Homo sapiens: one gene and its partners. The protein of the gene in region 1 purifies or fractionates together with the protein of each later gene. This does not show direct contact. Each region holds a gene or a part of one and is shown in the gene's direction. Other genes may lie near its edges. The genes, in order: OLFM1, PCOLCE2, EDEM2 and MANEA.

Region 1 (6,881 bases):
TTCCTCATGACAGAGGCAGAGAGACAGGGTGTGACTGAGACATTTGGCTCTGAAAGCTGCTCAGTCGTGGCCCTTAGCCGTTCTCCCTCCCGGGGCCAAAATCGCAGGTCACACAGCCACGCCTGATGCAGGTGGTGTTTGGGAGACTGTCAGCTTATGGGAGGTGCTGCCAGGCACAGGGAGCCGGGCCAGGATGGAAATCCTCTCCAGGGAAGGGGGTGAGGAGCAGTTACGCCTCCACCCATGTGTGAACCCAGAGGCCTCAGAGGAGGGGAGTACAGGGAACACTTGGCTCAGAAGACCCATGCTGGTCTTCTGTGGCTGCCGAGAGGGAGTGCCCAGGGGACCTGTGGCTCCTCCCATTCTGCCTGGCTTGAGGCCAGGTCCTTTCCTTGCTCCTGGAATGTTCCAGCACAGAAAGGGAATGAAAAAGCTACATACAACGTAGAAAAAGGAGAGGTGGCTCCATGTGGGACCTCTCTCTGTGTCTCTTCTCTCTCTGTGTCACTCTATCTTTCTTCTCTCTCTCTCTTCTCTCTCTGTCTCTCATCTCTCTCTCTGTCTCTCCTCTCTCCGTCTCTTCTCTCTCTCCTCTCTGTCTCTATTATCTCTCCTCTCTGTCTCTCTTCTGTCTCTCCTCTCTGTCTCTATTATCTCTCCTCTCTGTCTCTCTTCTCTCTGTCTCTCCTCTCTCTGTTTCTCCTCTCTTCTCTCTCCTCTCTCTCTGTCTCTCTCTCCATTTCTTTGTCTTCCTCTCTGTCTCCTCTCTGTTTCTTTGTCTTTCTGTCTCTCTGCCTTTGTCTCTCTCTCTCTCTCTTCTTCTCCCCTTCTCCCTCCCTTTCTTCCTCCCCTCCCCTTGTTTCCCTTCAAGATATTTGCCAATAGCCTGAGGAGAGTATGCGTATTTTTAAACAGCAACCGGGCATCCAAACTTTGTCCCTTGAGGGCATCCTTTGCCAAGGAGCATCGGGAAGTGGCCCAGAGACCTGCTTCCCTCCAAGCAGCCACTCCTGGCTCTGGGACCTGAGTAGGTTTGCATCCTGCGGACCTCACTGTTCTGACTGTGGGTGTCAGTGGTCGTCTGACTGTGGGTGTTGGTGTCGTCTGTGCCCTATCAGCTCACCATGTGGCTGTCCTAGGGCTTCTCGAGGTGATTCCCCAATAGCCCACGTGTGTCCGCCTCTTGTAAGGTCTATAGCAAGCTGGGCAGGAGCACCCTCTCACACTTGCGTCTTCTGAGCTCTGAAGCCGGGAGATGCAGAGGGGGTGTGCTTGTTTTTATGTGTGTTGATGAATTTGTACAGAGTCCACCAAGGTCAAGGCCTGTAGGGGGCTGGCATGAGGATAGAGACGTGGCTGTTCTAACCTGTCATGACAGGGAGGGTGGTGCAGGCTCGTGCCAGGACTCAGAAAGGGGTGGGCAACCTCCTGTCCTTCCCACGAGCGTGGAAGGCAAGGGCCCATGAAATGTCTTCTGGCGGCCTCTGTGGCTCGTGGAACTGTGCGGACAGCCAGGGCTGCTGTGGCCATGCAACTCATGCCACTTCTGGGGCTCGTGAGATTTAACTATGGCCATGACATTTATAAGACGAGGATGCCACCATGTGTATGGGCTTAGCCCTGGAAATAGGCTGTCACCATATGACCTTGGACAGGTCTTATCATCTTTCTAGGCCTGAGATTCCTCATCTATACAGTGGAGTCAATGCCACCACACCATGCACTTCAGTAAGGATTGGGTGCCAGGCATGGCAAAGCCCCAGTGCCACCAGGGGCGCAGCACCTGCCCCATCAGCATCCGTATGATTGTTCAGAGCTGCAGGTGTGATGAGCCCTGGCTTTAAGAGAAGTCGTGAAGAAATTGGGATTGAAAGTCCTCTTTAGGAACACTTGGTATTGCCTGGCGCCATGGATCCCCTAATCCAAATGCCTTCATTCTTCAACGATCCATACTTTCCTTCTGGAATGCTCCATGGCCTTCTAAATCCAATTACACTTACTCAAGCCTTATCTGACGACCCTTTCAAAACCATTATGCCCACTGAATCACAGATTTTAGAAACTGGACAGGACAGTTTGGAGCAGGTGCAGGTTGGAGCCGCTCAGGTGCAGGTTGGAGCCGCTCAGGTGCAGGTTAGAGCAGTCCAAGTGCAGGTTAATCTTTTACTTCGTTAAATAAATAAATGTCTATGGCTTCTGAGATGGCCTGACAGTTTTGTGGATTGGATTGGGTTGCATTTGAATTTGTTCCCGCAGAACAAGTGGTCCTTGTCCTTCCGCAGCGGGAAGCGGCGTGAGTGATCTGGACAGACACGGCTTGTGGCCTTGAATCGGTGTTAAACATGCATGGCCAGAGGAGGGGGGCGAAGCCAGCCCAACCGGACTTGTGTCTCCGCCTGGGCCCAGTCTGTGAGCCGGGCCTGCAGTCCCAGCTTACACTGGGAGATGGCGCCCTTCCCCAACAGTTGGAATTTCCTGGCATCCGACCCAGCCCGGCTGCCTGAGATTACAGCATTAATCAGAAAAGCAGATCTGAGGGGCTCATTTAACTAGCGGGTCTCACACCCAGCACTCAGGCCAGGATCATCTTGGCTGCAGCTGAAGTCTCTTCAGCCGAGGACTGCGCACACAGAGAGAAAAGCCCCAGGAAGGCGTTGTTCCTCTCAGGCGGGCGCCAGGGAGGCGCGCTCCTTCCGGCCCGGCGTCCGTCTTTCAAATCCCATCCAGGAAGGGAGATTAATTTTCGCCCAGGCAGAGAAGAGTGTAGTGAGTGATCTGGAGGATTCTTTCCTTCCCAAATGGCTGGGAAAGCTTAATGGAAGGCCCCGGAGGAAGTGGCTTTCATCTCCGATTAGAAGCCTTCTGTAAATGCAAAAGCCCTATTAACGTGTTTGACCCAGTCAGGCCTGCGCTTCAGGTGGGACTGACACGCGTGAGTCCTGCTGCGGTCGCCGCAGAGGGCCGGGAAGAGGGGCAGCGTGCGCCACTTGCCCTGCCTCTGTGCCTGGGCGCCATGACTCGAGCGCCACCCCTGAGTCAGTAAGGACACCCCCCAACCCACACCCCTCCACCACAGACCCCAGTCCCCGCCCCACACACCCACCTCCCCAACACCAGGTTCATGGGCGTGGTCCCTTCAGCTCCTGAGGTCCAGGCCTGAGCCCCAGACCTTATGCAGCTCCTGCCGGGTGTGCGCCCTCCCAGGGCCCTCACTGCGCACCGCGGGCCACGGCAGACCACCCCAGCCCCCGCCTTGCTGTGCAGGTGTCAGGAGTGCCGGTTGGCTCCCTTCCTCCCAAGCAAGGCCTTAGGGCACCGCGGCTGCCCTGGGATCGCAGGGGCGCCTTTAGCTCTCCACCGATGCCCCGACGCCCCCCTGGCGCTGGAGGCCCTCGCGAGTCTGGCTGCTTTTCGGAGCCTGCCCTGCCTGCTGGGTTTCAGGCGACGGCCCAGGCTGGCTGGGACCCTCGAATCACCGCGGAAAAGGGCTCCAGTAGGCAGGACGGCGCCGTCTCTCTGCCGGCAACCTTTGCCCCAAAGCGGACCCTCTGCGGGGATCGGAGAGGGATGCCCCGGCGTGAGGATGGGAGAAGCCCCGGGACGGGAGGGCCGCGGGCCGTGCCCCCAGCTGGAGTCCCCGCGCCGCCGCCGGGTATTTTATGATCTGGGGGTGGTGGTGTGTCCGTCTCCTCATGTCACCCTGATCCCAACTCCTGGGCGGACTGGAGTTTGCAGACCTCGCTGCCAGCAGCCAGGGGGCGGCGGGGAGCCGAGCGAGAGGAAAAATCCACCCATTTCCTGGGCGGATTGCGTCGGTCCCGCCCGGCCGAGCCCCGCCTCCCGGCCGCGGCCCCCGCGCGCAGCCCGCGCAGCGCTCAGAGCCGGACGGCGCTTCCCGGTGGCGGCGGAGGAGCCCGGAGGGACGCAGCCGGGCAAGGCAGGGCGCAGGGCGGGCGGCGCGAGGCGCAGGGCGCGGCGGGCAGAGGCCACCTGGCCACCTTCCCTGGCGCCCGGGGAAGGCGCGGCGATGGCCGGGGCGCGCGGGGCGGCGGCGGCGGCGGGCGGGCGGCGGCGGGCCGAGGGGGCGCGGGGACACAGCCAGGCGCCCCTGCCCGCCGCGGTGCCCGCCGCCTGAAGGCCGCCTGGGCGCGGGAGCCGGTGCCAGCTCGGAGCGGGCGCTGGAGGCAGCTCGAGGCGCGATGTCGGTGCCGCTGCTCAAGATCGGGGTCGTGCTGAGCACCATGGCCATGATCACTAACTGGATGTCCCAGACGCTGCCCTCGCTGGTGGGCCTCAACACCACCAAGCTCTCGGCGGCCGGCGGCGGGACGCTGGACCGCAGCACCGGCGTAAGTGCGCCCGCCGGCCGCCTTGGCGCGGCTCCTCCTCCTCCTCCTCCTCCCCCTCCTCGGTCCGGAGCCCCGGGCTGGGCGGGCGCCGCGCGGGACCCGAGTCGCCCAGGGAGGCGGCGGGGAGCAGGGCGGGCAAGGGCAGGCGTCGCGGGCCGGCGCAGCGGTGGCGACCCTGCTCCCCGCTCCCCCAGCCTGGGCCACTCCATCTCCGCCCGCGCGCCCCTGGGGCGGCGTTTCCTTCGTCTGGGCCCCTCGCCGCGGGGCCGGGGGAGCTTGGTGGGTTCTCGGAGGCTTGGAGTCCTGGGTCAGTAATCATGAGCCCCCCATTGAAAAGGTTAGGAAACTAAGGCTGGGGACTTGGGGACTTGTCCAAGGTCACACTCAGCGAGTGAGGGGTGGAGCCGCCGCTAGACCCTAGTCTGGGCTCGGTCCAGCGGGGACTGAGCCCGCCCTAGTTTGTAAAAGCCAGACTGGCCGGACCGGGCTGGGAGTGGGGCCCCAGCCGGTGGGCTCCGGAGCTCCTGCCCGCGCCTGCATTCCCAAAGTCCCAAGGCGCCCTTTCCTCCCCAGTCCATAGGAGGGTTTGTTCCTTCTCCTCCGAGGACGGTGCCGAGGGGCTTGGGTGGGGCCCCTGGGAGCCTGCCCTTGGGCGCTCACCCCCTCGCCTTTGCCTTCGTCTTCTGCGCGCACCCCTCCCTCCTGGCCTCTGAAATTGAAATCGCGTCTCCCTCTCGAGCCTAGCGGGAGGGGAACCGTGGCCGGGGCTGCTTCTGGGCAGAGCTGACTTAGATGGCTGAGCGAGGCTGAGCTGAAACCGCCACCCGGAGGGCCGCGCGGGGAAGGGGCCGCTGCCGGGAAGGCGCGCCCCAGACCACTGGCCCTTTAGGCTGAAAGGAGAGGTGAAGGACGTGAGTCTCCCTCCCTCTCTCTTTTTGCTGCCAGGGGTTTAGTGCCCTGCGAAGAGGGCTCCGTGGTGTGGCTCCCTCCTAAGACCCCTCTTGAGGCCGCCCTCCCTGCTCCTTCAGGAATCGGAGGGCGATTCCTCCATGATGACTTTGTTCCGGCCTGCCGGTCCCGATCTTCTGGGGTTGGGAATGAATGAGATTAAAGATATGACTACTATAGATTCTACCCGCCCAACTTCTCCTCCCCATCTTCATGCTAAAAATAGCAGAGAGATGACCTGATGCCACCGGAGGGGAGCGTGCTCAGAGACAGTAGGGCCAGCAGCAGGATGGAGCTGTGTAGGCTCAGGAGTGCCCGCCCCGGTACCTGGCAGGGCTGGGCTGCAAGGTTAGACCAGACATGGGCAGCTCCGGTTTCTTTGGTGATCTTTGGGCAAACCTCAGGACTGAGGTTGGGGGTGACCCCTGCACAGCATGTCACCAGCAATTTGGCGACCTCCACCAAATGGCTCGTGGGGGGAGCCCACAAGGAGCTGGAAACCTAGTGTTTTCTCGGGTCGGTCTGTGCCACGCTGCCGGCTGGGAGGTTGCTGTAGCTCGGGGTTCATCACAGCTCTGGGCGAATAGGCTGCTGGATCTGGGGCTGTTACAGTGGGTGCTTCGTCTGCAAGTGTCAGGGAACGGCAGGGCGAGGCTTGGTGGTGCCAGCCACCCGTGCTTGACTTACGGGAAGGATATCCTGTTTCTGAAATACGTGCCCGCTGCAAGCCACCCAGCGTTTGCTTTCCTGCCTTGCTCCTAGTCCAGCCTGTGGCCTCCAGTTGCCCCTCCCATCCACCCAGCAGATCAATTTGGCCAGACGACAAACTCCAGACATCCCTTGAGTTGAACTTAAATTTTAAGAACGTAAAGGGTCTTGCCTCTTTGACATCCTTCCAGCCCTGAGCCCCCTAACAGGAGACCTGTGCCTCTTTGTTCCCAGGGACCCTTTCTTCCCTTTGGGTCAAACATGTCTTGGGACCATTTCCTCCCATCTTTTCCTTGGGGGTGGATGTGGACAGTTTCCCCTGGTTGTTGGCTCTGATACACAACCTCATGGTCTCCCTTTCTCTCCTTCCCTCTCCCTTCCCGCCCCGCCCCTCTCCAGGTGCTGCCCACCAACCCTGAGGAGAGCTGGCAGGTGTACAGCTCTGCCCAGGACAGCGAGGGCAGGTGTATCTGCACAGTGGTCGCTCCACAGCAGACCATGTGTTCACGGGATGCCCGCACAAAACAGCTGAGGCAGCTACTGGAGAAGGTGAGTCTGCGCAGAGTGTGTGAGTTTGTATGTGTGTGTGTTTGTGTGTGTGTGTGTGTGTGTACATGCCTGTGTGCTCACACCAGCACCAAGGCTTGGCTAGCTTGCAGGCCCCATTTTGACTCTTTCCTGGTTTGTCTCCACTCAAAATATTTGTGAATGAGTGAAAGGGTGGATGGACGGATGGGTGGATGGGTGGGTGGATGGATGGACGGATGGGTGGATGGGTGGGTGGACACACAGGTGGATTGAGACTTCCAAGGGTGGTCCAGGAAGAGAGGACTAGACCTGCCCCCTGTCACCACAGGCTCCACTGAGAAGTCACAT
Region 2 (7,025 bases), on another chromosome or scaffold:
TGCTTTCACCACCTCATTTACTGACCTACCTACATCTGTCTTCCCTTCTGTCATTGGGCAAAACTGTCCCTGCTCCTACTAAGGCCAACTCCACCAGCTGTTCCTTCTGTAGATCAGATCCCCCTTTGCCTGCTCAAGGACATCTGTTAAGCAATCCTCCCTCTCTCTTGCTTCATCAGTTTTGCCCTCTCTACAGAATCCTTCCCATCAGCATGCAAACATGCCTTAGGAAACACCCATTGCAAAAACTCTGCTTAGACCCCATATCCCCTTCCTTACCCCCATATTATTCTGTTCATCTTCACAGCAAAACTCCTTGAAAAGCTTGTTTATATTTATTGTCACCATTTCCTCTCACCCCATTTTCTCATGATCCTTTTATCCAGTTTTCTCCCCATGGTGCCACCAGAACAGCTTTGTCAGCATTACCAGTGACTTCTGGTTGCTAAACTTCTGTGTTGCTAAATCCACTGGTCTTTCTCAGCAGCAGCACTTAACTCAGTTGCCCATTCATTCCTCCTTGACATACTCTCTTCGCCTGGCTTCCAGACGCCACACACTTTGGTTGCCTCCTACTTGTTGACTCAGTCTCTATTGTGGTTTGACCTCTTCACAGACTTGATGACATTGGAGTGTTCCAGGCCTCTATACTTAGACCTCTTCCTTTTTCTATCCACATTCACTCTGGGAGTGACTTCATCAAGTTTCGTAGCTTTGAATTACCCTCTATACATTTATACAAATAGTCACTATTCATGCAGGAAAAAAACAAATTAGTTTGAGATTCTTTTCATGGCTAGGACTTTTTCGGTGATTCATAGAGAGCCTGCTTATATTTAAGATTACAGATGTGGCATCATATTTTGATAACTTTCTGATTATTGTACAAATAGAGGTTGTGTGCAAAACAAAAAACAAAGCAAAAGACAGGAAGTTTTACAACAGACATCTTGGTGATAATGTTTAAAATTTAAATTGTTCTTTCTGTTATTAGCTTCTTAAGCTGTTCTAAGTTCTTTGGAACTCTGATATTCACACCACTGAGACAAGCTTCTAGGAATTAGAATGCAACGATGGCAAATCCAAACATGTCCCTTTTGGGAACTACGCCATTATAATTTCTACGATGAAGTGTAGATGTGTTTGACACAAAAAGCAAATAGCACTGAAAACACTTCATCTTACCATAGGAAAATAAAACGTATGGCACTGTACTTACCAACATGGGGAAGCCGTATTAATGTCAAAGCATCTATTGACCCTTGAGTCTGAAATAGTTAATTAAGATGAATATAAACCAACCACTTTTGATTGTGTGTGTTTGATTTTTTTAATCACTGAGTTTTGTTATATGTAAGTTTTTACAGAATGGAATTCTCCACTATTCAGTGGAGACCTCATCTGATTAAAGGAGTAAAACAATTATGATCAAGACTTTATGACTGAACAACTTGAATGAAGAAATTAAAAGGTGGTATGAACTGGGAAAGAAATGGGGCTTTGGTAACCTGAGAATCCTACCAAATGCTTTTATAGCCATTTTTTCTACCTACTCAGGGAATAAGGAAGGAACCATCATTAAGAATTTTATGGGGAAATTATGATGAATAAAATATTATGATAAAATGAAAGCTTATCTTTTTCTTCATTAGCGCATTGTGTCTCAAGGCTTCCTGACATATAAAGTCTTCACCTGGAAAACAAATGAGCAAAAAACTTAGTGACATTCAGAAGAGATGATTCAGCAATTACTCAGTTCATTTAGTCAGTATCGGTAGTTCATCTGGATGTTTCAGGACCCAAAATGAATTATCTGTAAATTAACTACACAATTGCCAAATAAATCCTCTATTTTGAACTTCATAGAAACATTCTATACACAGGCATTGAATGCGTCCTACTGTATTATTTGTAAGAAATGATTTTTTTTTTTTTGAGGTGGAGTCTCGCTCTGTCACCCAGGCTGGAGTGCAGTGGCGCGATCTCGGCTCACTGCAAGCTCCGCCTCCCGGGTTCACGCCATTCTCCTGCCTCAGCCTCCCGAGTAGCTGGGACTACAGGCGCCCCCCACCACACCCGGCTAATCTTTTGTATTTTTAGTAGAGACGGGGTTTCACTGTGTTAGCCAGGATGGTCTCGATCTCCTGACCTTGTGATCCGCCCACCTCGGCCTCCCAAAGTGCTGGGATTACAGATGTGAGCCACTGTGCCTGGCCAAGAAATGATATTTTTAAATGTTTCTTTGCTAAGCAATATCTCTAGGTATTAGAATATGCAAATATATGCTAAGGTCCAATCAGGACTGGTATTCATTCTAAGCAATGACTCATCTATTAATAATACTGACCTAATATTTTGCAGCTTTGTTGAGGTAAGTTCTTAAGGAATAAGATTGTGAATCCTGGAGAATTGCAGAATTTGTCAAAAGAAAATAAGTACTTAAATTTTTTAGGAATGCAATATGCTAGAAAACTTCCCTTGGGTTAGTTCAGATATGAGAGAGGAAAAAGCATTATCTTGGATATTATACTTTACACACTTAAGTAAGTGACTAGATGTCAAAGCCTCAGATATTGTTTTCATGACAGTTTTCTAATTGGCGCTTTTCTTGGCAGGTTCCCGAAGGAAAAGTAGTCGTTCTCAATTTCCGATTCATAGACCTCGAGAGTGACAACCTGTGCCGCTATGACTTTGTGGATGTGTACAATGGCCATGCCAATGGCCAGCGCATTGGCCGCTTCTGTGGCACTTTCCGGCCTGGAGCCCTTGTGTCCAGTGGCAACAAGATGATGGTGCAGATGATTTCTGATGCCAACACAGCTGGCAATGGCTTCATGGCCATGTTCTCCGCTGCTGAACCAAACGAAAGAGGTACTGTTTCCACATAATGGCAATAACAACAGTAATGTTGGTTCACTGTTCTTGGCACTTGATGTTTATTTACTCCTTTAAAGCTTAAGAGTGGTTCTCAAAGAGCTAGTGAATGCCATCAAACCATGATGAGACCAATACAAAAAATCAGCCTTTTAATTTAAGTCCACATGCATTCTTGTAAATCAAGTATAGAAATTCATAGAGTAAAAATGTGGAGCTTACATACATAAGCACACATGCAAATATGCAAACACACCCCTTCACCACTCCATAGTCCATTCTCCAGAAATAGCCATGGCCAGTGGTTCCCATACCTTTCTATGTGTGCTTGCTTTTATTTGAGTACTTATACAATAGCTTTTAAAAAATAAAAGTGGAGCCCAGGCATGGTGGCTCATGCCTGTAATCCCAACACTGGGGGACCAAGGGCAGGTGGATCTCTTGAGCTCAGAAATTCAAGACCAGCCTGGGCAAAATGGTGAAACCCCATCTCTACAAAAAATACAAAAATTATCTGGGTGTGGTGGCACACACCTGTTGTCCCAGCTACTTGGGAGGCTGAGGTAGGAGAATCACCTGAGCCCAGGGAGGTCACTGCTGCAGTGACCGTGATCATGCCACTGTGCTGCAGCCTGGGTGTTGTTGAGACCCTGTCTCAAACAACAACAAATATATATATACACACACACAGATATATGAGATATAGTGAGCTCCCAAGCGTAGAAATCTCTACTTTTGAAAGATCACTGCAGTGGGCAATATTTGTATGTTTTCAGCCTTTTACCCAAGAGCAGTCCATAATCTGCTTTTGGATTGGACTGTAGTGCAACATTTTTACTTGAAAGGTCAGAGGACAGAATCTGGGGCTGAAAGAGCAGCCAGAATGTTGGGGAGGAAATCCAGGCAGGGAGTTACAGAATTGAGGCACAAAATATTCGTATAAAATCTACTGAAATCTTTGTCTGACAGCTAAACTCTACATATGTGGAGGAGAGCCCAGTTGGCCTGGCACAAAAGCATCAGCTGAAAAATGAAAGAACTGAAAAGAGATTACAGCTGCTGCCTGCTGCCAGGGAAACAGACTTTAAGTTTGAGTCTAGCCAAGTTAAATGCCTGCTAGAACAAAATTATTTTTATCAGAACACAACAGAATCTAGAGTATAATGTATCATGCATAATGTCCAGTCTGTAGTTATGTAATGAAACAGGAAAAGTGTGTCCCTATTCAAGGACAAAAGCAGTCAATAAGAACTGATCTCAAGGTAACTCACATGTTGCAATTAGCAAACAAGTACTTTAAAGCTGCTATTACATGTTTGTTTCAGGATTTATAAAGGGAAATATGTGCATAATAAATAAACAAATTGAGAATCTCAGAAGAGAAACAGGAACTATTAAAAAATAAATTAATAATTCTAGAGATAAAAGAAACAGGATCTGAAATTTTAAAATTTACCTATTGTACTCACAGGTAGATGGGAGATGGCAGAAAAAAAGAGTCAGTGAACTTAAATAGAAATTACTCAATCTGAAGAAAAAGGAGGAAAAAGATTGAAGAAAAAGAGCTCGAGAAACCAGTGAGACAATATCAAGTGGTCTAACATCTGTAATTTTTGTCCCAGAAAGTGATAATAAAGTGAAAAAATATTTAAAGATATTATGACTTGACTCTGCTCAAATACAGTGAAAAATATCAACTCACAGAGTCAAGAGGGGCTGAGCGTAGTGGCTCATGCCTGTAATCCCAGCACTTTGGGAGGCCAAGGCAGGCAGATCACCTGAGATCAGGAGTTCAAGACCAGCCTGGCCAACATGGTGACACCCCGTCTCTGCTAAAAATACAAAAAAATTAGCCAGGCATGGTGGTGCACTCATGTAATCCCAGCTACTCGGGAGGCCGAGGCAGGAGAATCGCTTGAACCTGCAGGCAGAGGTTGCAGGGAGCCGAGATTGCGCCACTGCCCTCCAACCTGGGCAACAGAGCGAGATTCCATCTAAAAAATAAATAATGAAAATAAGAAAAATAGAGTCAAGAGGGTCAACAAACTCCACAGGACAAATAAAAATGAAGCACCCCCATGCACATTATAATTAAATTACAGAAATTTAAAGACAGAGAAAATCTTGAAATCAATCAGATGAAACTAAATTCCATACAGAAGAAGAGTGATAAGAATGATGGCTTCCATTTCCTCAGAAACACTGGAAGCCAGAAGGCAGTGTCATAGTATTTTTTTTGAGACTGAGTTTCACTCTTGTTGACCAGGCTGGAGTGCAGTGGTGCTATCTCGGCCCACTGCAACCTCCACCTCCCAGGTTCAAGCGATTTTTGTGCCTCAACCTCTCAAGCAGCTGGGATTACAGGCATGCGCCACCATGCCTGGCTAATTTTTCTATTTTTAGTAGAGACGGTGTTTCACCATGTTGGCCAGGCTGGTTTCGAACTCCTGACCTCAGGTTGATCTGCCCACCTCGGCCTCCCAAAGTGTTAGGATTACAGGTGTGAGCCACCGCCCCTGGCCTGTCACAGTATTTTTAAAGCGCTGGAATAAAACTGTCAACCTCTATTCTATAGCCAGCCTTCAAGAATGTAAGTAAAATGAAGACATTTTCAGATAAACACTAAAAATCTCTGAAAGGCATTTTTATACTTACACTGGTAGAAATATTGAAGAGAATTCCTCAGGTTGAGGTAAATGACCTTGTAAAATGAAAGTAACAGAAGGAATGAAGGTCATTGGAAATAGTAAATATAAAAGGGTATATGTTATTTTCTTTTCTTCTCTTAATTTCTTTACATGTATCTGTTCAAAACAAAAAAACCTTAGCACTGTGTTGTGGAATATATAGTGTATGATGTAATATGTTTGACAACCAAAGGATGGACACATAAATGTAATTACACTGTTGCACATACATATACAACACGTGAAGTACAATATTAACTCTAAGTAAATTTTGATAACTTAAACATGCATATTATAATCCCTAGAGAACCCATTAAAAATGCAGGAGTTATCACTAAAAGCCAAAAGATTAAAATAGAATACTAAAATTATCCAACTAACCCAAAGAAGGCTATAAGGAAAAACAGATGGAATAAAAGAAAGGTAAAGCAAATAGAAAAAAGTAGTAAATGGCACATTAAATCCAAGAAGATCAATAAATATATTAAATGTAAATTATTAAATACTCTGATTAGAAGACAGTTATTGTTAGAATGGATTGAAAAGCCAGACCCAACTATATGTTGTCTACAAGAAAGCACTTGAAATACAAAGACCAAGTTGGTTGAAAGTAAAAGGAAAAATACAAAACTTCATTAAAATTAAAACTAATACTTATAAAAAGACATGGTTACAAATACAAATAGCCTACAGAAGGGGAGAAAATATTCACAAAAATGTCTGGTGAAGAACTTGTATTCAGAATATACAAAGAACTCATACAACTCAACGATAAAAAGGTAAAGATTCCAGTAAGTATAAAAATTGGCAAAACACTTGGACACTTCACAGAGGAAAATATGAATGGCCAATAAGTGCATGAAAAACTACTCAGTATCTCTCATTAGTCATCAGGGAAATGCAAATTAAAATTACAGTGAGATGCCATTACTTACCCACCATGTTGGCTAGAAAAACTGACACCACCAAGTGGTAGCAAAGATGTAAAGCAACCGAAGTGTTCATACTCGAGAGAGGTGTAAAACCACTTGGAGAAAAGTTCCAGTAGTTTTTTATGAAGTTAAATATTTACATCGACTCTTGGCCCAGCAGTTGCAGTCCTGGGTATTTATATAAGAGAAATGAAGATACATGTACAAACAAATGTGTACAAAACTGTTCATAGCAGCTTCATTCACAATAGTCCAGACTAGAAACCACCCATCAGCAGGAGAATGGGTAAACAAATTTATATGGAGCTCTAAAATTAAACTCATCTAATGGGAAGTTTTTCAGAAAAGTAGTGTAGAGAACTGGCAGGATGGGAAGAGATGCACAAATTTAGTGGGAAATGGATTCTATATCATCATAGGAGTGTGGTTTACACAGGTATATCCATTTTTCAGATTTGTACAGCTAAGATTTGTGCATTTCAGAGTATGTGAATTTCTCTCCCCAAAACCTGTAAAATAATAATAATAAAAA
Region 3 (7,735 bases), on another chromosome or scaffold:
TGGACATACTGCATGCAAAGTTCAAGCATTTCTACAAAGCAACAGATGGATGGGAAATTTCCCAGGGATAAACTTATTTTTTGGCAAGTCAAAAGTATGTATTGTGCAAGCCCTGCTTTGGGAGTTGGGAGAACCAAATGACCTCCAGATGCTACAAAAAGGATTCTTCCCTGCTAAAAGAGGTCGAGTGTACTTGGCCAAAGGGGATCTAAAATGCCTTGGCTTCCAACTTCAGGGAACTGAGCTTTTCCCTCTAACTTTCTAGCAAAAGGGAAGGAAATGTTGACCCTAAAACCACATGAAGCTAAAGCTAGAGGACACTGTAGCAGTTCGCCAGATCTCCATTGTTGAATTCTGTGTTGGCCTTTTATTTATATATTTGTCATTATTTTCATTAATGCGTTAGAGTATAGGCTGTTTGGGTCCATATCTTGACTCTTCTACTTATTCGGTATGAGACATTGATTAAGTTGCTAAATCTTTCTTCAATTCTTAGAATCTGTGCTTCAGGTTTTTGGTTTATAAAATGGTGATAATGACACTTTCTCAGAGGGTTGTGGTAAGGATTAATGGTGTTGATGGATGTAAAGTACAAAGAACATTACTTGCTATGTAAATGTTCGCTATTATCAATACACGTGACTATTTTCTCCTTCTTCTTCTTGTCCCCCTCCCCATCCCCCTCCTCTTCCTTGTTTAGTTGGCAAATAGTCAAATTCCATTTGGAATGCTGTCCCACTGTTTTATTCTGCTTCATGGATGTTTCTGGGGGAAATTTGTGCAGTCGATGTGTGTTGAATTCTGTTTTCTGATTTTTTGCAATAACTGTATGGATCTGTTAATATTTTCCTTGTGCTGAGAGATAGTCTCACTCTTTCATCTTCCAGATATGGAAACTGAGTCCCCAAAAGGGAAAATGACTTGCCCGAGATCACACAGAGATAGTGGATAAACAAGTAACAAGACCAAGGGTTTCCGACAACCAGTCCAAGTCTTGTTCCACTGAACACAGAGTCCGAGGACATTGGCCTCAGATACTGATGTGATCTGAGCTCCCTCCAAACTCTATTCACCCACAGGGAAGACTTGAACACCCTATGATTCCAAGTATTCTCCAATTGACATCTTCCCCTTCTAACAAAATTGCAAGCACTTCAAGGGAAAGGACTATGACTTGATTATTTTGGAATCTTAGTTATATGCTCAGCACTGTGCCTCAAACTTTTGAGGGTAGGAACTATTGCCTATAACACCTTGGATGACTCGGGGCAGATGCTCAGTAAATGGAAACAACTGCCCTGCCTTAAAAAAAAAAGAAGAGTTGGGGAGGCAGGGAAGAGAATTAATATGTATCAAGAATTTAATATATACCAGTCACTGTGCTGAGAATGTTCACTTTCATTATCCCATTTAATTCCCAGAATTCCTTTATGGCCTCATCAATTTCTGTATTTTACAATAGGAAATTGAGTCTCAGAGAGGTAGGCAACTTACCCTGAGTCTCTTCACAAGTAAATGCTCAAGTGTGACACTTCACTGGTGGGTCATAACCTTCTAGAATCCAATATCATAAACACAGAGTGAGAGAAAGAAGAGTCCTGATACTTTCCAGAGGGTAAAACAATTTTTTTATTCTCATTAGAGAACATATAGTCACATGAATTGTGAAAACGTAAGTCATGGTTTTATTTGTTCAGTGACAGTGTGGAGAATGACATCAAGCTAGAAAAAGAATATAAAGGAAAATCATGAGTGTTTCAATCTTGCTCATAAAGAGAGACCTATCGTTACCAAATCCAGGCAACCTGAACCCACCCTTCCTGCAAAAGTTTTATCCACACTAGAATTTTGAATGGGAGACAAAAAGATAAGCTATAGGATTTATAATATGGAGAAGGTGAATTTCGTCACAGGGAAAGGCCCAGGTCTGAAAAATATTTAGTCCCTGCGCTAGGCTGGAAACAGCCACCTAAAGTCCAGGTCCTAATCTCTGGAAACTGTAAATGTTTCTCTATTTGGAAAAATGGTGTTTTTTTTTTTTTTTCCCCCTAGATGTGATTAAGTTAAAAATCTTGGAATGGGAGTTTATCCTGTATTATCTGGGTTGGGGGGGGCGCGGGGGGGGTCCTAAATGCAATTATAAATGTCCTTATAAGAGAAAAGCAGAAGGAGATGTGACACATCCACAGAGAAGGCGATATGAAGGCACGGGCAGATACTGGAGTGATACAACCATAAGCCAAGGAATGCCAGCAGTCAGGAGAATCTAGAGAGGCAAGGAACGGATTATCCCTTAGAGCCTTTGGAGTGGGTGTGGCCCTGTCAATAACTTAATTTTAGCCCAGTGAAATTGATTTCAGGCTCCTGACCTCCCAAACTGCGAGAGAATAAATTTCTGTTGCTTTAAGCCACTTGGTTTGTGGTAATTTGTTGCAGGAATCACAGGAAACGAATACAGTGCTCCTGTGTTGTTATCCAGGTCTCAGCTTACTGTCATCTCCTTTCCCTTCCATTTGGAAGCCCCAAGAAGAGTTTCTTTTTTTTTTTTTTTTTTGAGACAGAGTATCGCTCTGTCTCCCAGGCTGGAGTGCAGTGGCCTGATCTTGATCTTGGCTCACTACAACCTCCACCTCCCGGGTTCAAGCGATTCTCCTGCCTCAGCCTCCTGAGTAGCTGGGACTACAGGCGTCTGCCACCACTCCCGGCCAATTTTTGTATTTTTAGTAGAGACAGGGTTTCACCATATTGGCCAGGTTGGTCTTGAACTCCTGACCTCGTGATCCGCCCGCCTTGGCCTCCCAAAGTGCTGGGATTACAGGCGTGAGCCACTGCACCCGGCCAAGAAGAGTTTCTAAAAACATCCCAGGCTGGGTACAGTGGCTTATGCCTGTAATCCCAGCACTTTGGGAGGCCTGGCTGCACTCTGGCTCAACAAACTGAGCTATCACTTCCATCTGACTTTTTCAGCAAATAAGAGATAGCCAATCCTAGAATCATAGAAAGCTCGACCGAAAAGGATCTTAAAGATCCATTTGTTCAAACTCCTCATTATTTATAGACAAGGATGCTAGCCCCAGAGAAGGAGAGGGTCACATACACAGGTTATAGATGAGTGACAGAGTTGTAATTAACTGGATCCTAGATCTGACTTCAAATCCAGTGTTGGTTCTACCGCATGTCACACTGACCAAAGTCATGGGTGTTGCTGTGGTCTAAGGTGCTGACCAAATTTTAGAAACTTGGGAATAAGGGGAATGGAGAAATGGATCACAAACCTCCTGAAAGCTATAGTGCCCCAGGGTAGTCATTTGTCTTTTTTTTTTTTTTTTTTTTTTTTTTTTTGATATGGAGTTTTGCTGTTTTGCCCAGGCTGGAGTGGAGTGGCGCGATCCTCGCTCACTGCAACCTCCGCCTTCCGGTTTCAAGCGATTCTCCGGCCTCAGCCTTCCGAGTAGCCGGGATTTACAGGCACCCGCCACCACCCCTGGCTAATTTTTGTATTTTTAGTAAAGACGGGGTTTCACCATGTTGGCCAGGTTGGTCTCTATCTCTTAACCTCAGGTGATCCACGCACCTCAACCTCCCAAAGTGTTGGGATTACAGGCGTGAGCCACCGCGCCCAACCAGGGTATTCATTCTTACCCAAGACATTCTACAGGGCTGACAGGGGTAAAGCTTCCGGTTTGAGATGGAGACTGAAGGGACCATGATTGTGTAACCACATCCCAAATTGGGAGGAGAGAAGTGTCATGAATTCCTAGAACTGACGGGATTTCAGGAAACCTCAAGAGTGACAGCATCGGAAAATGCAAGAGGTTTTAAAAAAAAAAGAGTGGAAGTTTTGGACAAATAAATGTGAGTTGTGTCTTATACAATCAACAAGTAACTGGTTTGGGAAACTCAATATCCCTAAATAAGGGAGCAGACCACCCCTCATATTGTCTTATGCCCAATTTCTGCCTCAAAGAAAATGTAGGAGTTAAAAGAAAGACAGAAGTGAAATCAGTAGTCAGACAGCCCGGCGATGCATTCCAGGCCTGGTAATTAAAGATCGACCCCTCCTGACCTAACCGGTTATATTATCTATAGATTCCAGACATTGTATGGAAAAGCATTGTGAAAATCCCTGTCCTGTTCTGTTCCGTTCTGATTACCGGTGCACCGGTAATCAGTCACGTACCCCCTGCTTGCTCAATCAATCACGACCCTCTCACGCGGACCCCCTTAGAGTTGTAAGCTCTTAAAAGGGACAGGAATTGCTCACTCGGGGAGCTCCGTTTTTGAGAAGTGAGTCAGCTGACGCTCCCGGCCGAATAAAGCTCCTTCCTTCTTTAACCCGGTGTCTGAGGAGTTTTGTCTGCGGCTTGTCCTGCTAGGTAATAATGGTAAAGGCTGAACATTTCTCATGCTTACCCTGCCTTCATACTTAATAAGGTTGTTGAAAAAAATGAATGAGAGAATGCATTTTAAATGCTCCGTACAGTACTAGTACACAATAAGTGCTCAATACATGCTAGCTGTTATTATTAAAACATTAATTAATAACAGTAGTAACAACAGCCACTGACTTTAAGACACGTTGATCAGTGTTGCCGAAACCGTACATCCGAAGTTGCTCTTCGGCCGCGTTTCGCTGCCCATTGCATTCAGGGGCTTGTAGTCCGGAAGTGAGAGGCTGATTTCTCAGCGCGCAGGCGCAGTGGCGCGGATTCCCGGAAGAACCCGCAGCAGCTCCCAGGATGAACTGGTTGCAGTGGCTGCTGCTGCTGCGGGGGCGCTGAGAGGACACGAGCTCTATGCCTTTCCGGCTGCTCATCCCGCTCGGCCTCCTGTGCGCGCTGCTGCCTCAGCACCATGGTGCGCCAGGTCCCGACGGCTCCGCGCCAGATCCCGCCCACTACAGGTGAACTGTGACCCGCCCTTTCGCAGTTGGGGAATGGGAAGCGTGAACCCGGTCCTTTCCCTTTCCGTCCATCCCAGACCCCGACTTGCTCCGACACAGCCGCTAGGTCCCAGGGAGAAATCAGCTAGTGATTCCCACTTTCCGCCCTGTATCTTGTTCTTCCCCCGCTTGTTTTTGTGTTCTTGCCCCATGCCTGATTTCTCGTCCCCCACCCAGGGAGCGAGTCAAGGCCATGTTCTACCACGCCTACGACAGCTACCTGGAGAATGCCTTTCCCTTCGATGAGCTGCGACCTCTCACCTGTGACGGGCACGACACCTGGGGCAGGTAGTGCGAGCGGAGGGGCAAGGGGCGGCCAGGGTCTGACTCTCTGGGCCTCGGCGGGCGGGTCAGCTGGGGCTGGTGGCTTCATGGTCTCCTCACCGGCACCAGAAAGCTCCCAGCTGAGCTAGAGCCGCGCTCCCCGCAATTCTTACTATCACCTCCAGGATCCACTTAGCCTCTCGCAGTGAAAAAAAAAGTCCTGGATTAGCCGGGTGGGCTGGATCGCTGAGCTCAGCCCCAGCAGTAACAGGCATCAGCTGTGGGGACATAGGCAATTTCTGGAGTAACGAGATACCGTGGAAGGGCTCCAAGAATTAGAAAACCCACCCCTTTCATTATGTAGGTGGGCATTCAGATCCAGGAAGGAGTGTGACACTCCTAAAACTTAAGTCTTTGTAGTTGGTGTGCCCCGTGCCTGAAATACACTCCCCATTTTCCTCCCATCACTGGCTGCTGCTTGTCATTCAGATCTCAGCTCAGTATCTTAATACCCCTACGAGTTAGGTGCCATTATCCCTGTTTTACACACGAATGTGCTAAGGTCGGGAGAAATTAAACTCAAAACTTGTGATGGTTTTTATTTTTTTAAGTTGAAACAAAGTAAATACAAATGGCAAATTCAAGTGGTAAAAGATTATATACAATAAATATCTCCCATACCCTAGAATTCCAACTATTAACTTTCCTTTGTATCTGTCCAGAAATATTCTTGGTTTATACCATTATATATATAGATGTGTGTATGTGTATCTTTTTAAAATGAACTTCTTAAAGGCATAATTTACATATAATAAAATACACTCTTTTTTTTTTTTTTTTTTTTTTGAGATGGAGTTTCGCTCTTGTTACCCAGGCTGGAGTGCAATGGCGTGATCTTGGCTCACTTCAAACTCCGCCTCCTGGCTTCAAGCGATTCTCCTGCCTCAGCCTCCCAAGTAGTTGGGATTACAGGAGCCCACCACCACACCCGGCTAATTTTTTTGTGGAGACGGGGTTTTGTCATTTGGCCAGGCTGGTCTTGAACTCCTGACCTCAGGTGATCCACCCACCTAGGCCTCCCAAAGTGCTGGCGGATTACAGGCATGAGCCACTGTGCCCAGCCTACACTCGTTTGAAGTGACCACCATCACAGTCAAGATATGAAACACTTCTGTCACTTTAAAAAGTTCCCTTGTGGCCCTTTATAGTTCATCCCTGCACCACCACTGACCCTAACAATTGCTGTCTGCTTTCTGTCAGCATGTCTTTTTGAAACAGATGGAAACATACTAAACCACCCTGACTTTTTCATTAAAAACAATTCGAATGTCTTTCCATCAGCACATAGAAGTCTTGATAACAATCTTTTTGATAACTCATAGTTTTGCACTGTTTATAACACAGTTTAATCACCCATTAATGGGTGGACAGTTGGGTTCTTTCCAGCCTCTTGCTGTTCTAAGCAATACTGCCATGAACACTCTCAAACAGCTGTTCACTGTGAATTAAATTCCTAGAGGTGAAAATTGGTGAAAGGCCTGTGCTTTAAGCTGCAATCTTATACTGCCTCCCAATGGTAGAGGAGAATGCCAGACTATAGGTGATGTATTTAATTACAATTGAGCTACATCAGCCAACCCTCCCAGGTGCATTAAGTGGGTCAGAGAATACCTGCGATTTTCACTGTGGTTTCTCTGTTGTGACTGTAAGTGGGACAGGCAGAGGCATTACTTTGCCTCATTTAGTTTTAGGGGGATCAGATCTAGGGCAGCCATAATATCTGGTATTTGATTTTCTTACTAAGCGGCTGGGATTTCTGTCCTTTTGCAGTTTTTCTCTGACTCTAATTGATGCACTGGACACCTTGCTGGTAAGTATCTCGTCTGTTTCTTTTCCTTTCCACTGTTACATAACCAACATCCTTCCTCTTTTGGCAGCGTGACTGTGGGTGAAAAATGAATTCCTCTCCTAGGCCTTTTATTTGCATCTCATGATTCTGAAGCGTCCGGCTGTGGTTGCCTAGCTAGATAGGGGAAAAACGAACTACAACTTATGCAGATTCATTTATTTAGCAAACATTTATAGAGGACCTGTTATGTACGGAGAATTGTGATAGGCTTGCATAGCTCTATGGGGGATACAGAGACTTTGACATCTCCTGTTTTCAGAGGCTTACATTCTAGTGGCCATGTTCAATGATAATAAAAGGGTATCAGGCTGAGCATGGTGGCTCACACCTGTAATCCCAGCACTTTGGAAGGCCGAGGCAGGCAGATCACCTGAGGTCAGGGGTTTGAGACCAGCCTGGCCAATATGGTGAAACTCCATCTCTATTAAAATACAAAAAATTAGCCCAGCATAGTGGCACATGTCTGTTATCCCAGCTACTGGAGAGGCTGAGGCAGGAGAATTGCCTGAACCCGGGAGGCGGAGGTTGCAGTGAGCCGAGATTGCACCATTGCACTCCAGCCTGGGTGACAAGAGTGAAACTTCATCTCAAAAAAAATTATAAAGAAATAATATCAGTGA
Region 4 (7,025 bases), on another chromosome or scaffold:
GTGTGTGTAATGGCGATACCTGAAGTTGTTGCATGTTGCTGTTGTCTTGTTTCTGCCAATTCTTGTGCATGGTGTTTTATTCTTTGTGTTCTTAATTATCTTTGATTGTATACTATTTATTGTTCTTTATGAAATACTTTTTGTAAATAATTTGAGGCCCAGGAAGAAGATGCCTTCCTCCAGAAAGGATTTTCTTTTGCTTCTGCCTGGTGACTGTTTAGAATACCATTTCTGGTTACCTTAAATTAGGTCTAAAGCTAGAGGATTGTACAAGCATTGTGAACCTGCAGTTTAATTCACTGCTTTTGAGAGTTGGTTTACTTGTACCAATTTTGCTTGGGGCAAACAGACCTCCTTGCTCACTTATCTTTCTGGTTTCACATTTTCCCTTCAATTTGGCCAGGACATTTCTTACTCTCTTCAGCTCTTTAAGACATTTTCTCCCCGTGTTTTATATAATAATAATGGTTATTTTCATGGAGAGTGCTTGGTTTACTATTAGACCAACTGTTATTTTAGACTAGTCTGCTATTATTAGAAACAGGAATCTTGTTTTGTTTTTACTTTTATGGAAGAATGTTTTGCTTATAATTTTCATGTGATTCATAGCATAATCTTTCTGTTGTTTAATATTTTTTCTTATTTTGTTCCTTTCATTTTCTGCATAAAATAATTTTTTCGTAGGTCCCATGTTGAGAAAACTTTTTGTTGTCATTCTTATTTTCATTGGTGATATTCTTCTTATAAGCTGGGCTAGTAATCTTACAAGATTGTAAGTGATCGCTTATAAAATGTTGGATTGTCTCCAGACACTTTTCTCACCAGCATTTCTCTCTAGGATATGCCTTCCTCTGGCTAGCCAGTTTCCCTAAAGCCTCATATGTTATAGGTTATTTTTTCTATGTTTCGTTCTAGTTGCCATTCTTATTTTCAGAGTGGATAGGGGACATAAGGATTATTTTTCCATTAACTTTGATTTTGTTGTCCTAGATGGGACTTACTTATTTGTACATGGCGGCTAGCACAAAACTTAGGTCTTAAAATTTAGTTCTCCAGCAGTTTCTTACCTTCAATTTCTTAATTTCCATATGCTTCTCTTTTGGTACCATTATTATTTATTTCTCTGCCTTAAAGAGTCTGTTTATTTATCTAGAAATTTGTGCAATCTTTCTAATGACTGTCCATTTCTTTGTATACGTAATGAGGCTTTGAATTAATTCATCTTAAATATTCCGTCTCCAGTTAGTGATTTTCATGTAATTTATGCTTCTAACACATAATTTATCAGTTCAAAAATAAGTAGGCAGGCACTACAGAGAGGAACAGTAATTATTTTACTATGTTAGAATCTTCTGTTAAAAGGTATTGATCTACACAAAAACAGCATATAAATGTTTATAGCAGTTTTACTCATAATGGGCAAAAATTGGAAGCAACCAAGATGTCCTTCATTAGGTGAATGTATAAAATAAATACAATGGCATATTATGCAGCAGTAAAAAGAAATGAGCTATCAAGTTATGAAAAGGTATGAAGGAACCTAAAAATTCAAGTTGCTAAATGAATGAAGCCAGTTCTAAAAAGCTACATACTTTGTAATTCCAACTATATGACCTTCTGGAAAAGGCAAAATTATAGGCAGCAAAAAGCTTAGTTATTGGCAGGGGTGAGGGGGAGAGGGAACGGGGATGAATCAGTATAGCACAGGAGGTTTATAGAGCTGGTAAAACTAGTTTTTCAGCTACTCTAATGGAGAGCATATGGTATAATAGATTTGTCAAAACCTGTCGAACTGTACAACACAAAGTGTCAACCCTGATGTAAACTATGGACTTTAGTGAATAAAAATCTTTCAATATTGGGTCATCAATTGTAGCAAATGAAAGATGTTAATTATAGGAGAAACCGTGTGGAGGGTTGGGGCAGGTAGGAGGAAGAGTATATGAGAACTCCATATTTTCTTTGCTATTTTTATGTAAACCTAAAACTTACTCTAAAATGTAAAGTCTGTTCACTTTTACAAAAGCTTATTAATGCCTGATAAAGAGGTCATAAATATTGACAAAGTGATCAAATAGCCATATGTATTCTGAAGGAACTTAACAAAACCACCTCGTATAAATATGTTCTTCTATTGTTAACTCTTTGGTACTTACTGTGCCTTTTTAAGAATATCTGCATTCATGTTCTTGTCTTTTCCCTTTCTTTTTGGTCTTTTCTATTAGGTGTACTAGCCCTCTCTTGGTACCCACCTGATGTAAATGATGAAAATGGAGAACCTACTGATAACTTGGTACCCACTATTTTGGATAAAGCTCATAAATATAACCTAAAGGTATTTTATTTTATTTTCAAGCTATACATAAGTTAATTCTTTTGGACAAGAGGAGAGTAATAACAATTTTTGAAATAGTAATTTTAATTAAAAATGATAATGACTTAGAATCTTTTAAATACTATATTTCATAAAGAAAATTTCTATAATAGGAATTTCAATCTTATCTAAATTATATTTTAGAGATTCTTTACTATGTTTCTAATGTTTTATTTTTTTATAGTAGAAAGGGATTGAAAGGTTCTTTTGTGAAGATAATATAGTAGTGAAGATTTATATGTCTAAATATCTTAGATGTCAAAAATCTAAAAACAAGTATTAACCATGTAACTTTGCATATTTATAAAGTAGTTAAAAAATAAACTTGCTCAAATATTTTTCAAAATCCAATTTTCATTTAAACCTTATTTAATGTGCATACACATACACACCTGAGTAAATATAGAATACAGCAGAAAGATCAAGTATATTTGATGCAGAAATTAATGTGTGTTGCAAATGAGGGAACACTTCTGACAGTCTTAAGATTTTATTTCTTTTAGAAATTAATGAATCATGGAAACAAATAGGAGTGATGATTAAAAGTATTTAAATAGCACTACAAAAGAAAATTTTATACTGAATAGCAAGTAAATAAGCACTGTTTTTAATATCCAAAGATACATTTTAAAAATTGGTCATGTATTAGGTAGCAACATTAATTCTAATAAATTCATAAAAATTATAACCATAGAGTCTGCATTCTCTGACCACATTCAGTACCATGGAATGTTAATAATTAAGTCCAAACCATTTAGAAAGTATAAAATTATTAAAATTTTAATAACATAATTGAGAATAACTCTGAAATTTAAGTGATATAAATAGCACTGAGATTATTGCATTATCAATACCAATGGGACCTAAATAATAAGACATAGTAGAAGAAAGAACTATGATAGATGAAGTGTGAAATTAATTAAATAGTATACAAGTCCTTCAAAATCAGTAGTCTGGATAAATTAATCTTTACTATTGTCCACTTTTGGGGAAAAAACAATAGGCAAGCCATTGGTGAGATTAAAAAAGAAAAGAAATTGAGAAAACATATCAGCAAAAATTGAAAAGAAATATACCTATAGTTTCAGAAGAGAGTTTAAGATTTTATATCAGTCTATTTAAAATTTATATGGTAGTTTTATAGGAAAATACTAAAATTAATTTTTTTTGGTGCAGAAAGAGGTTTAAAGAATCTGAATTGACTATCCTAGAAAAAAACGTATAAAAGATAATTGAACAAATGTCTTCCCCAAAGTGTCAGGTTTACCTCTCAGTTGTATTCAGAATAGTTGATTTTTATGATAACTGAAATACAGTGTCAAGTATACTCACTATCTATTGCTGCATAACAAATTATTCCAAAACTTGGTAGCTTAAAACAATAAACATTTGTTACCTCACACAATTTCTAAGGGTCAAGCATCTGGAAGTGGCTTATTTGGGAGTGTCTGGTTCAGGGTCTCTGAAGGAGGTTACAGGCAAGCTATTGGCTGGTGCTGTAGTCATCTGAGGCTAGAGGATCCACTAACAGACTTTCTCATGTGGTGGATGACAGACCTCAGTTCTTTGCAGCAGGTGAACTGGAGACTCTGTACTTCTATATATGGGCCTCCAGCTTCACTAGAGTGAAAGATCTGAGAGAGAGTCTAATATAGGGGCTACAGGGTTGTTTTTGTTTGTTTTGTTTTTTGACATAAATCTTGGCAATGACGTGTTAATACTTCTGTCCCATTCTGTTGTTTTATCTACGGATAAAACAACCATGGCACAATGTGGGAGGGAACTGCAAAGTTATGAATACCAGGAGATGGGTATCGGGGGGCCATCTTGAAGAATGGCAACCACAGAAAACTTCCAAATTTATTCCACAATAGCACAATTTTTATTTAAAACTAAGAAAGGATAGAACAAGAAAGAGACAGACTAATCTTACCAATGAAAATAGATTCAAAATTCCTAGAGGGAATTTTGAGAAGAAGTGTTTATTAGCAAGGATTTAAGAATGGTTCCAATCATATGAAATCTGAATCTAAATTCAGGTCTGCATTCAATCCTGGCTCAACCACCTTGTAGCTTTATAAATGACTTGTGTCTCAGCTTCTTCATCTCTAAAATAGAAATAGCAACAAAACCTTCCTTACACACAGAATGGTTATAAAGATTATATTAGATAATATATGTAAAACATAGATTGCTGTCTGGCACAGAGTAAGCACTAAGTAAATAAAACTTCATTGATTATTTAAAGAAGGTAAAACATGGTTATCTTAAGAGATACTGAAAATTTTAGGAAATAAAAATTCATTGTTAATGAAGTCCTTAGTAACCAAAGTTCTTTAGCTTGATAAAGGGTGTCTCTTAGTATCTTATTTCAAACACTATATCTGATGGATATACTACACCTGTAGTCCCAGCTACTACTCAGGAGGCTGAGGCATGAGAATTGCTTGAACCTGGGAGGCAGAGATTGCAGTGAGCTGAGATTGGTGCCACTGCACTCCAGCCTGGGCGACAGAGTGAGAGTCTATCTCAAAAAAAAAAAAAAAAGTGATGTAGGTTCTTTTAACTAGAGACCACTCTGAGATTGCAACCACTCTTAAAATTTGCTGAAGCTTTTTATTTGCTCTGTAACTTCTTGCAGTTATATTCTAATGGAGGACAATCTGGTTTGTCCAATACTGGTAATTGAGCCCTGTAAGATATGTTATGGACCACTGTTGAAATATTTCGTTTCAAATAAAAATGTGAAACATTAGTTTTGTCTTAATTTTCCTTTTGCAGCCTAGAGATTGAGTAGTTATTGGAGAATAGAAATGGAACTGTAGGGAGTGAGAAAGAGCTAAATAGGCAAGCATTTTTTTATTTCTGTCCATAAAGCTGCCTCTTCTTTCTGATTTACTATCCTGAAACTGTTAAGACAGCATCTCTCAAATTAGCTGTCTAGCAAGAGCTGTCACCTGCCATGTCCCTTGGTGCCTTTCAGTGAGTTCTTATTGGCATTTGAAATCTGCAAATAGGCAAGCCTCCAGGTTCTGGTGCCCAGGCTGAGGTTGGGTAAGTGATTGATTTATCTTCCACAAAACAAGCCCAAGAGCTGCTTTTCTGTCCAGGCCCTGCCAAAATCCTGGAAGATGGAAGCTCAAGAAACTGGCTATTTTAGTACTTTCAGGAAGTTTTGAAAGAGAAAATGAAAATGTTATGATATATGAGGATTGGTTGGCTTTTTCTCCTGTTTAAAGTGTCTGTGTAGAGAAGGAGAGTGTGGCAAAGAGCTCGACCACTAATTGCCTATTTAATGTTGCCAGCATACTTGATCTCTCTGTGCTAGGGATTTTATATCTAATGATCAGAAAAACTTGGAACACGATAGACTAATGTTTTCCAAAATTTTTAGAACAGTTTCTTGGCCTCGTGTATGGTGAGGAACTATGTATAGACAAAGAATAGACCTGGAATCATGAGACTGGAGCTTGTTCTAACTGAGTAGCTCTGGAATCTTATATTAGTTCCTTGATCTTCTTGGCTTATCCCCTTCATTTGTACAATGACAATGAAACCATAAGATAGTTTTATTGGATTTGTCTATGATTTCTGTTGTTGTGGAACAGACATTTTTCCTAACTCAATAAAATGCAGTAAATCCTGTTTTTTTAAAGAATGGAAAACTTTCCCTTTTCTTGCTAATATAAGGAAATTTTAATATGTTTAATGAATGACAGTACCTTACTAGAATTATTCAGTGTGCTAAGGCAATCTGATAGGAAAAGATTAATGATGTTGTAGATTGTGTGCTGACAAATTGGAGCCTCCAATGCACATAACTGACCACATCTAAAACTTTTAAGTGTAAAATGCGTTCATTAGTAACATCTCTTTTTTCTTGCTAGTCTTCAAAGCATGGAAATACTAAATGGATGGAGAATTTTTAGGGAATGAATCCGTCTCACAGTTAAACTTTTGTTATAGTTCATTCATTTTGATTATATAATGTTTTTACTAATATTAGTCATTAAATATTTTGTAATTGTAATTTTGATTTGTTAACTTCAACCAAGAGTTATTTTAAGTAAGTGCCTTTTAAATTATAAACAAACATGCAAGAAAAGGAAATGATTGGTGCTTTAGTTATTTTTCATTATCTTTAGCAAATGTGACTAGGTTTTTTTTTGGAAGTGTAAATGAGTGAAACTAAAATTTAAATCTTGATTTTTCAAAGCGATTTAGTTTCTGTTCTTTTAAAGTATACTTGTCTGCATGTTTGCTAGAGCAAAGGCTGTTGCACTTATAACTGTCATTTAGTAGGCTGGTTTTGCAGAGAGTGTAAAAATCAGGGCTGGATTCCTTCCTCTATATCCTGCACCATTAAGAACACAGCAACGGAACAATTTTTTGAGTAAGACATGACAGAAATATTTGGTAGATTCCGTCATTGTTTAGCAAATAATCTGGTTTTCCTTCCCCTGCATGCAAAGAGTAAGTATACTTCCTGCCCTGTTGTTGTTGGGTTTGGCCTTATGGCTTGCTTTGGCTGATGAGATGTGAGAAGAGATAATGTATACTATGTGCTTGCATGATTATGCTCTTATTCTCTTTTATAAGAAAAGCATGCCCCTTTCTGCCTAGGACTCAGAATGACAGACACGTGGAGCTG

The links.
Region 2: the proteins of OLFM1 (region 1) and PCOLCE2 purify together in Homo sapiens (affinity purification with mass spectrometry; 3 studies listed by BioGRID and IntAct, with this or other methods). This does not show direct contact.
Region 3: the proteins of OLFM1 (region 1) and EDEM2 purify together in Homo sapiens (affinity purification with mass spectrometry; 3 studies listed by BioGRID and IntAct, with this or other methods). This does not show direct contact.
Region 4: the proteins of OLFM1 (region 1) and MANEA purify together in Homo sapiens (affinity purification with mass spectrometry; 3 studies listed by BioGRID and IntAct, with this or other methods). This does not show direct contact.

Annotation. Positions count from the first base shown.
Region 1 is NC_000009.12:135,083,791-135,090,671, forward strand, and holds the start of OLFM1 (noelin isoform 4 precursor), read left to right. Parts: upstream 1-3,877; 5' UTR 3,878-4,199; coding exon 4,200-4,349; intron 4,350-6,404; coding exon 6,405-6,554; intron 6,555-6,881. UniProt on the Homo sapiens protein: Contributes to the regulation of axonal growth in the embryonic and adult central nervous system by inhibiting interactions between RTN4R and LINGO1. Inhibits RTN4R-mediated axon growth cone collapse.
Region 2 is NC_000003.12:142,844,063-142,851,087, reverse strand, and holds part of PCOLCE2 (procollagen C-endopeptidase enhancer 2 precursor), read left to right. Parts: intron 1-2,615; coding exon 2,616-2,871; intron 2,872-7,025. UniProt on the Homo sapiens protein: Binds to the C-terminal propeptide of types I and II procollagens and may enhance the cleavage of that propeptide by BMP1.
Region 3 is NC_000020.11:35,144,320-35,152,054, reverse strand, and holds the start of EDEM2 (ER degradation-enhancing alpha-mannosidase-like protein 2 isoform 1 precursor), read left to right. Parts: upstream 1-4,718; 5' UTR 4,719-4,796; coding exon 4,797-4,903; exon of another isoform or gene 4,904-5,119; coding exon 5,120-5,230; intron 5,231-7,036; coding exon 7,037-7,076; intron 7,077-7,735. Other genes in the region: MMP24-AS1-EDEM2 (ER degradation-enhancing alpha-mannosidase-like protein 2), read left to right, coding at 5,136-5,230, 7,037-7,076. UniProt on the Homo sapiens protein: Involved in the endoplasmic reticulum-associated degradation (ERAD) pathway that targets misfolded glycoproteins for degradation in an N-glycan-dependent manner.
Region 4 is NC_000006.12:95,594,512-95,601,536, forward strand, and holds part of MANEA (glycoprotein endo-alpha-1,2-mannosidase), read left to right. Parts: intron 1-2,225; coding exon 2,226-2,335; intron 2,336-7,025.